2 separate regions of the Homo sapiens genome follow, and region 1 is linked to region 2. A link means that fine-mapping ties the variant in region 2 to the expression of a gene that starts in the linked region. Tissue or cell type: whole blood. Region 2 holds a variant in brackets; the other region holds the start of a gene. All regions are shown on one strand. Distances are between the middles of the regions.

Region 1 (5,150 bases), 260 kb after region 2:
TTTTTTTCTCCTCTCCTACCCCCCCCGGCCCTTCTCCCTGCCTGCGCGCCCTTCAGTAGGTGAAAACCAGGTTGGAGATGCTGGACTCGAGCCAGTCTCCCGAGATCATCTCGCTCACCTCGGGCGTGCAGTAGTCCGGGAACTCGAAGTGCGAGCCGGAGCCGGGCTCGAAGTTAAAATCCAGGTCCCGGTCGAGCGCCGACGACGAACTGAAGCTGCCCAGGGACATGCTCTCAAAGTTTGAGCTGGGGTTCAGGTCGAGCAGGTCGTCTTCGAACTCGTCGTCGGAGGACGAGGAGCCCGAGGAGGAGGAAGAGGAGGAGTGGGACGAGGCCGAGGAGGACGCGTGCGAGGGCGCGCTGGACGGGGCGGGCGAGGCGGCGCGCAGGCTGGCGTAGCCGCGGTGGTCGGCGGGCGAGCGGCCGGCGGCGGGGGACGAGGCGGCGCTGCTGCGGCCGCTCAGGCTGGGCGCGTCGGGCGAGCAGCCCGCGCCCTCCTCCTCGTACAGGCCCAGGGGGTCGCTGGGGTCGGCTCCCGCGCCCACGCCGCCCACGGGCGACGACGACGTGCCCAGGCCGCCGAACAGGTAGACGCGCTTCACCTTCTTCTCCGCCAGGTGCTTGCCCGGGGCCGCGAGCGCTGCGGAGGCCGAGGCTGCCGAGGAGGCGGAGGCCGAGGCGCTGGGAGTCCGCGCCTTGTACAGCGAGTGGTGGTCGGCGGCGGCGCCCAGGGGCAGCAGGGCGGCGGCCCCCGCCTGTTCGGCGGCGAAGGAGGCGGCGGCGGCAGCCGCTGCTTTCCCGCCGCCGCCGCCGCCTGCCAGGATGAGCTTGGCGTGCGGTTTGCTAACCCCACCGCCCGCGCCGCCCGCCACTTTGGAGCCGCAGCTCTTTTTCTGCGCCGGTTTGGAGTTGGCGCCGCCGCCACTCGCACCGCCGCCTCCTCCCCCCGCGTTGCTGCTCCCGCCGCCGCCGCCGCCCCCATGGCCGCCCCCGCCACTGCCACCGACCTTGTCTCCCTTCTCCCCCGGCTTGGAGGAGGCGGCGGCCGAGGAGCTGGAGTTGGCGTTGCCGGACTTCACCTTCTTCCTGGGCCGGTACTTGTAGTCGGGGTAGTCAGCCATGTGCTTGAGGCGCAGCCGCTCCGCCTCTCGAATGAAAGGGATCTTGTCGCTGTCTTTGAGCAGCTTCCAGCGTTTGCCCAGCCGCTTGGAGATCTCGGCGTTGTGCATGTCGGGCGACTGCTCCATGATCTTGCGCCGCTCGATCTGCGACCACACCATGAAGGCGTTCATGGGTCGCTTGATGTGCCCACTCGGGGTCTTGCACCAGCTCGGGTCGTCGGCCTTGCCGCCCGTGGAGGCGGTGGAGCCGGGCGTGGGGGAGGAGGCGATTCCCAGCTCGAGGCCGGCGCCCGAGTCCGAGCTCTCGCCGGCCAGCAGCGCTTCCGTGTTCTCGGCATTGTTGGTTTGCTGCACCATGGCCTCGGCTCGGCGGGCGCCCACGCGCGCTCACACCCTCGCGGCGGCCGCCGCGCGATCGCCGGGCCCTCCCGGTTCCCCGGGCCAAGCACACGCCGAACGGGAAGACGCGCGCGGCGGCCGAACTGGCCCCTCAACTCCTCGCAGGGGCGGAGGTGGGTAAAGAGAGAAAAGTCCCCAAAAGATTTGGGGAAGGAGTTCTCCGCCTCTCGCAGAGGAGTTATAGTTCCCAGGCTGGAGAGTCTCTCTCTCCCTCTCTCTCGCTCTCTCACCGCGCTGCAGTTTGCTGTCTCTCGGCTGAGTCTGGAGACCGTGCTAAAGTAGAGAGGAGTTTCTCGAATGCTGGTTGCTGAAGCTTCCAATGCAAGTTTCTCGCGGCCTCCCAGGCAAGTCTTTTTTTTTTTTTTTTCTTTTTCCCTGAAGCAGTTGATTCCAGTTCACGAGCGCTCTCGGTAGCTCAGGAAAGCGACATAGTCTCTAGCACTTAGTCCCTCTCCTACAATGCAAAGCAAAAAAGACTGTGGCTCCAGGACTCTCTGTGGGCGGAATCGGCACTAAGGAGTTGGTGCAATTATTTTGTTGCAAGGTAGGAAGCCAAAAAGCCTGCATGCAACAGACTGGCATGAATAAATGTATGTTTCCCCCTCCCTTCTGCAAGAAGGGAGCTGGTAATGGCAGGAGTTCCTCCAGTGCAGACTCTTAAAGAGCGTGCAAGAACTAGAGACCCGACAGCGAAACAGGCCTCTTCCCCTCACACACAGTTTCTCTTGCTGCAGCTTAGAGCAGACCCCAATTCCGCCTCGCGCCTCTTTATCCTTTCACAGTCTTGGCTGCAGCCAATCAGCTGCTGTAACCAACGCTTCCTCATGCCAAACCCCTCCCCCGGGCTTCCCATTGGCTTGGAACCCGATGCAATAATAATCTCCGCGTGCAATGAGAAGCTCCAAATCTGACCTCATTCCAATTTACAGAGCAAACTTTTTAAAAGGGCTAGAAGTACAGCTGAGATTTCTGCTGCCTCTTTTTTCCTTTTGCTGTGTGTGTGCGCGCGCGTGTGTGTGCGCGCGTGCGTGTGTGTATAGTGTGTGAAGAGGATGTTAATGCATGAAATTATTAAGGGGAGAGACGGAAATGTATTCTAACCATTATGTTAGATAACAAGGGGCTTGGAACGGGGCGGGGTAAGGGTGAAATACTGTAAATGGAAGCTTTCTGCTTAAAAGCCAAGTGATTATTTTTATTAGTTCTTTTCAGCATTGGAATAAAGAATCAGCCTCTGGTGCAAAATCTGTTCCCCAGCTCTTTCTTAAAGCCAAAGCTGTAAAGGGGAAGAGAAAGCCACAAAACAATAAATCAATGGATATTGAAAACCATTAAGAAAGTGGTACCTAGACACCTGTCATCACAATTATTTTAACAACTCTAGGTACAGCACAGATGTTGATGTATTGTGTAAATCCCTTCAGAACCGTTTTTGTGCTGTTTGTGGAAGGCAGGGAAGAGGACTTTGCAATAATTGCTTACTCTCTTAACCAAGCAAGGGTCAACTATGGTTATTTAATGATTTAAACTCCCTGTAAATCCTGCATAGCCCAAACAGGGGAGCTTTCCCTTGAAACACATTAGGTAGTGCTCCGTAATTACCTCAATAGGCAGATTTCCAGAGTTTTGTATAGGATGTATAATGGCATGTAAAGGATGGAAATCGGTTTTACTTTCTAAATATTTGTTTTCCCTGTTTTCAAAATTAAAGATTGCTTCACTCTCTTCCCTCTCCTCCTCCCAAAGCCATCTTCCTCCTTTCCTTCTTATATATTTCCTCTTGTTACTTGAATCGAAGGGAACTGAAAAACCAAGGCAAAGAGAAACTGTAGAAGGAGGTGATAACTGGTAGCAGAAGAGAATGGGGCCTCCGGATTCATAGTAGACCTGGCTGCTAATCCTTCTTAATGGTTTGTAACTATGGGGATGTGGCCAAGTCTCAGTTTTCCTCATCTATTATATGGGAACACTAGGAGCTACTTTATAGAGGGTTGTTGTGAGGGTTCAATGAATTTGTGACTATGAAGCACCTGATGTATTGTAAGCCCTCAATGAATACTAATATCTTCCTTTCTAATTCAAATGCCAGACACACTCCTAGTAAAAGCTGCATGTTGTTCAAGAGGCTAAAACAGAATAGCCACTTATGTAAAAAAGTAATAACAGGCAGGACGCGGTGGCTCACGCCTGTAATCCCAGCACTTTGGGAGGCTAAGGTGGGTGGATCACTTCAGGTCAGGAGTTCGAGACCAGCCTGGTCAACATGGTGAAACCCTGTCTCTACTAAAAATTAAAAAATTAAAAAATTAGCTGGGCAGGGATGCATGCGCCTGTAATTCCAGCTACTCGAGAAGCTAAGGCGGGAGAATTGCTTGAACCCAGGAGGTTGCAGTGAGCTAAGATTGAGCCACTGCACTCCAGTGTGGGTGATAGCGTGTGACTATCTCAAAAAAAAAAAAAAAGTAATCACAGATCATTGATGTGAACCATAGAAGGACAATAGTGGCAACCCTGCCATTCCATTGATTTTAAAAGAAAGGAACTCCATGAAGAATACTAAGAAGAATGTGGCAAAGAAAGGATGCCAAGGTATTCAAAATAAACGTTGGCTACAGAAATTACTTGTTTTCCAGTGTCTGAAAATTAGAATTGTAGTAAAAATCAGCTTTCCTTAACACTATAATAGGAAACTAATATTCTTCAGGCTAACCATAAGTGGTTAGGTAAAGTCAATCCAAAATAATTAAGTCGGCTTTTGATTCAGATTAAACTAGTGCTGGGTAGTAAATTTCTATGTATCTTGTCAAACTTTTAAAGTATGTAGGCTGGCAATAGGCCCAGGTTGTCAGACTTAGAATTTTACTGGAAAGAACACCCTATGTAGCCATCTGACTGGATCTGTAAGGATCAACCACAAGCAAAACTGTTTTTGTGGGTAAAAGCAAATAATTTTTGACGATTAGCTACTTGTATTACATAATTTTTTTAAAAAAGGAGAAACAAATCCTTAAAAAAAGAAAAACCCAAACCAAAAACACACAGGCACCTTTTTTGCATAACAGTGTTGCTGTGTTATATACTACATTTTCTCTGGTGTGCATAGAAACACATCCTTAAATGTTACCAATCTGACAAAAAAAAATTATTTTAAGAGGGCTATTATCTATAAGATCAATATTTTCACTAGAATAAAAAAGAATATTTATTTTTGAATTTGTACTAACTAATGATTTGAGGGTGTAGCTAGTTTGATAATTCAGTCAAGTTGAGTATCAACATTATTGATTATATTTCTCAGTCATTTATGCTTCCATCATCGAATATGATAGGGAAGAGTGGAAGTTAAAGCAGTCATATATGTTTCTGCTTAAAACACATGGATTTTTTAAAGGGTGTACTAAAACACAGCCACTGGCCTCATTCTTTTGTTACATGTATTTTCTGTATTTCAACAAATCCAACAAATTTTAAGACACACCATTATATTACATTCCACCAAGGAAGAAAGCTGCCAATGAAACTGTGATATCCCCCTAGATGTAGGATGCCTCCTTATTTCAGGAAGAGTTGAAATGAAAAGAAAAATTTCCTCTTAGACTTGATGAAATATGGTATCAGTAACTTCCATTGA
Region 2 (5,150 bases):
TTTCATTAATGTCTGTGATGGAATCATGAACCACAACAGTGAGGCATTTCCGCCTCTGGCCTTTTTTTGGTTTTTGTTTTTTTTAGAATCAGGATCTCACTCTGTCGCCCAGGCTGGAGTGCTGAGGCACAATCATAGTTCACCGCACCTCGAACTCCTAGCTTCAAGCGATCCTCCCACCTCAGCCTCCCAAAGTGTTGAAATTACAGGTGTGAGCCACTAAGTCCACCTGCCTTTTTAAGATGTGTTTGAAAATATCCAGGAGAGCAACTCAGAAGTTATAGTCTTAAAACATACCCATTCAGGCAGCTTTGTTTTCCATGCGGAAAGCCCAGGTTGGCTGATATTCCTGGAGGCTTCACGCATCCTGGGAGGCGGCTGAGGTATTCCTTTTCTCCCTTTTAAACAACTGACAGACACTTTCCAGCATCTTCCTGGTGGCTGAGTTGATGAGGGATTTTTTCCCCTCGTACAGTCCTATTTATGAAAATCAGCAGCTAGTTGGTAGCAGGTTAAGAAGCTCCAGGTGTTGGGGGAAAGCAAGCTCCCCATAATTAGCATTTTCCCATTGAAATATCATTATATCCCTGAAATATTATAACTTGAGTGTCCTTAATTTTCTACAGATTTTTATTTTGCAGTGTGAACAAGATCCTTAAGCTCAGAGAAGAATCATTTCCTAGGAAAAAGACTAGCAACACAGATGCTCCATGCAACCACTTCTTGTAAAACACCAGTACTTAGACACACAGACAGATTTTTAAACATAATTCTAAGTTCAACAGACCAGACTCAACGCACAGTGATGCACAAGAATGGGCTATGTGCCCACCCCCAAAACACTGTGGAAGCACACTAAGAATGAGTTCTGATGAGCAGGTGTTCCAGGCAGAGAAATGCTTCTAGTCAGAATCACCCTGAGTTTCAAAAACAGATTTTTAAAGATCAATTTCTAGGTGCATGTTTTTTGTTTTTTGTTTTTGAGATGCAGTTTCGCTCTTGTCGTCCAGGCTGGAATGCAGTGACACGATCTCGGCTCGCTGCAACCTCTGCCTCCTGGGTTCAAGCAATTCTCCTGCCTCAGCCTCCCGAGTAGCTGTGATTACAGGCGCACGCCACTGCACCAGGCTAATTTTTTGTATTTTTTTTTTTTTTAGTAGAGATGGGGTTTCACCATGTTGGCCAGGCTGGTCTTGAATTCCTGACCTCAGGTAATCTGCCTGCCTCAGCCTCCCAAAGTGCTAGGATTATAGGCGTGAGCCACCACGCCGGCATTTTAGTAATTTTAACGGAGACGGGGTTTCACCATGTTGGCCAGGCTGGGGTCACAAACTCCTGACCTCAAGTGATCCACCTGCCTCAGCCCCAAGTAATATATTTTGCGGTAGCTTTTTGATGCAAATATCAGATTATTGTACTGAGACAGGAATATTTTGGACTGATCCTTAAAAACCCATAAAATTTTAAGCTGCTTTTAAAAAAACTACCCAAAAATGACATCCATCAGACAACAACCCTTATCCTATACCCAGTGGGTCAGGGCTAGGCTAAACCACAGAAAGTTATGGAAATGAGTACATCGCTTGCTAAATAAAACCAGGGGTTACATTGTGATGAGATGCATCTGGTCAACCCCTTCATTTTATAGGTGAGATTCAGAGGAATGGCCTCCCCTGGCTAGGAAGTAAGAGAGCCAAGACTTGCTCATATTTCTTCTCTCTAAATCTATGCCCTTTCCATGGTTTGATACTTCCTATGTATCGATGACATTTTACATTCCTATTATGTGTAAGGTAGCTAGACTTTCTTTGCCCAGCTGGCTAAGCAGCATTAGCTTGGTTTTTCACAGGCAAGCCTTCTACAGTCTTCTTCGAATGTACTTGTAGACTCTTTTTCAAATGCATTTGCACACTAATATGTATATTAGTTTTTTATTGGTGCATAACAAATTACCACAAACTTAGTGGCTTAGGCAACAGGCATCTACTAGCTCACAGTTTCGTAAGTCAGAAGCCCAGCCCATCATGACTGGGTTCTCTGCTCAGTGTGTCACAAGGCTGAAATCTAGGTGTTGGACTGAGTTCTCATCTAAAGCCTCTAGAGGAAAAAGCCCCTTAAAAGCTCATTCTTGTCATTAATAGAATCCAGTTCCTTGCAGTTGTAGGACTGACATCCCCACTTCCTTGCTGGCTGTCAGCTCCTTGGGGCTGCCGGCATTCCTTGCCACACAGCCCCCTCCATCTTCAGCTCACAAAGGTGCATTTGAATCTTCCTCATGCTAAGAATCTCCAGCTTCTCTTTCCTCAAGCAGCAAGACAAAACTCTCTGCTTTTAAAGGGCTGGTGTGATTAAGTCAGACTCACCTGGATATTCTCCAGATCTTAAGGTCAATTATACCATAGAACATAACTAGTCAAGGGAGTAAATTCATCACAGACATAGTTCCAGGGATTACTCAGGGTGTGTATGCAACACGGGTCTGGGAGTGAATCATGGGGGCCATGTCAGAATTCTTCTTCCACACAATGCTAATAAGGGCATGTTTATATTTCCCCTAACTCTGCCAAATTAGAAAGCAATTATTCTGTCTGAAGTAAGAATGATGTAGTGGCATGGACACAATTTAGAAAGACCCTTCACAGAAACAAGCATATTCTATGGCTTAAAACTTTCCACTTCAACCGGGATAGCAAAGGGGTAGAAATCATAAAAACAGATAAAGGAGAACAATCTGGGGATGAGACTGAAATTGCCGAGTGAGACAGTGGGGGTGGGGTCTAAGGAAGCAGCTTTCACAACTGTCACATACAACAGACTGTAAGAACATGCTCCGTCAAGATTGTGTCATCTGTGTGCCCCACCCTCCTTTTTTGGGTTAAAGCATATAGCACTAGTTTCATTATAGCAGGGACCATATCTACCAACCATCAAGGATAAGCACAATGCCCAGCACATACTTAGCGCTCAATCAACATTGATTCAAATAAACTTGAGGTCAGAGGGGAATGCTGATACATGCTGCTGATTCTGCTAAATTAGTCAGTGTTCTCCCCT[C/T]CCCCAACAATGAGCACTTAGCCAGAAAAAAAGTGAAAACAGAATTGGGAACTTCCTTTTAAAAATGAGTGCCACCTCAGTTCCCTTCATTTCGCCCTATCAAAATACTCCACTAAAATAAAACTAAAGGAGTTTCTCAGAATGCAGAAATCTACAAGGACAAGAAGACTGAGATGACAGCAGCAACAATATCACGAAAGCCAGAAAACTGATTCATGGTAAGTAACCAGCGTGATTTAGCGTGGATCCTAAACTAGCAGTGATGAAAGCAGAACCATCCAAAGCCTTCCCAGGACCTCCGAAGTAGGGATTCAGGTGAAGCTTGTGAGCACAGCAGACTCTCAGGCCCCACGCCAGACCCACTAAATCAGAACATTCAGGTAAACAAATTTCAGACATGCATACTCACTTTATTTACTTATATTTTTCTTTTTTTAGAGACAGGGTCTCACTCTGTCACCTAGACTAGAGTGCAGTGAAGAAATCATAGCTCACTGCAGCCTCAAACTCCTGGGCTCAAGCAATCCTCCCGCCTCAACCTACTTAAGTAGCTAGAACTACAGGCTCATGCCACCACCCTGGCTAATTTTTATTTTTTTGGTAGAGATGGGATCTTGCTATGTTGCCCAGGCCGGTCTGGAACTCCTGGCCTCAAGCAATCCTCCAGCCTCAGCCTCCCAAAGCACTGGAATTATTGGTGTGAGCCACTGTGCTGCCCCCATATTAAGTAGCACTCAGTTTGTTCTCCTCTTTTTCTTTTAGGACGTGTATCAAATTTTCCTGTGTTCCAGGAATTCCAAATTCAAAGAAACAAGAGAACAATAATAGTAATTTTATTTACCAAGTGTCAGGAATCCAAATGAGAAAATGTCTGTACAGGAGACACACAAATACCACAAATTAGCAAATCTAATTGGGTTTTTTTTGGGGGATATTTTTCTGACATTACATGCAATAGTTTTATTTGTCATAAACATTGTGTACATCTTTGACTTCTTTTAGATGTTGTGGTAGTGACATACATATTTGCAATTTATATTGCATGTGTCAGCATATTGAAAATCAGCTCAAATGACCAATTTGTATTATATAACTTGTAAGTTCTAAAAACTTAGTATTAGTAGTACTCCCTTTCCCTGAAGATTTCTTTAAAATTTTAATTGTGTGCCGGGCGCAGTGGCTCACGCCTGTAATCCCAGCACTTTGGGAGGCCTAAGCGGGCAGATCATGAGGTCAGGAGTTCGAGACCAGCCTGACCAACATGGTGAAACCCCGTCTCTACTAAAAATACAAAAATTAGCCAGGCGTGGTGGTGGGCGCCTGTAGTCCCAGCTACTCAGGAGGCTGAGGCAGGAGAATCGCTTGAACCCGGGAGGCGGAGGTAGCAGTGAGCTGAGATCATGCCACTGCACTCCAGCCTGGTGACAGAGTGAGACTCCATCTCAAAAAAAAAAAAAAAATTTAATTGTGGGTGGGTGTGTGTGTGTGTGTGTATATATATATATATATATATATATATATATATAACATAAAATTTACCATTTCAGCCTTTTTTTTTTTTTTTGAGACACAGTCTCCCACTATAGTGTGGTGGCACAATCTCGGCTCATGCAACCTCCACCTCCCAGGTTCAAGCAATTCTCCTGCCTCAGCCTCCCTAGTAGATAGGATTACAGGCACACGCCATATTTTAGCCATTTTTAAGTATACAATTCAGTGGCATTAAGCACATTTGTTCACATTGTTTTTCTATCACCAGCAGCCTGCCACAGAACTCTTGAATTTGCAAAACAAACTCTGTACCCATTAAACAGTAACTCCATTCCTCCACCCCTGCTCCAGGTAAGCTCTAAGCTACTTTCCGTTTCTATGAATTTGCATATTCGAAATATTTCATATTTTTGAGATCATACCATATCTGTCCCTCTGTGTCTGGCTTATCTGAGTTAGCACAGTGTCCTCAGATCCATCCATGTTGTAGCATGTGTCATAATTTCCATCTTTTAAAGCTGAATAATCTCCCATTGTGTGTATATACAACATTTTGTTTATCCATTCATCTATGGATGGACTTCTGGGTTGGTTCTACCTTTTGG

What was found. PIP is the estimated chance that this variant, and not a neighbour inherited with it, causes the effect.
Region 1: SOX4 starts here. The variant in region 2 is fine-mapped to the expression of SOX4 in whole blood (TOPMed, PIP above 0.99).

The regions. Positions count from the first base shown.
Region 1 is chr6:21,590,862-21,596,011 of GRCh38, reverse strand. It overlaps SOX4 (SRY-box transcription factor 4), which reads right to left and starts at 2,261. Exons shown (of 1, transcript NM_003107.3): 1 at 1-2,261. The coding sequence starts at 1,477. The coding sequence ends at 53. RefSeq lists silencers at 511-560, 611-700, 1,471-1,650.
Region 2 is chr6:21,853,916-21,859,065 of GRCh38, reverse strand. All of the region lies in intron 4 of CASC15 (cancer susceptibility 15), which reads right to left. Among named protein-coding and RNA genes, the nearest start is that of CASC15, 190 kb to the right of the region's middle. RefSeq lists a silencer at 2,354-2,648. The variant C/T (reference allele first, on the strand shown) is at 3,055.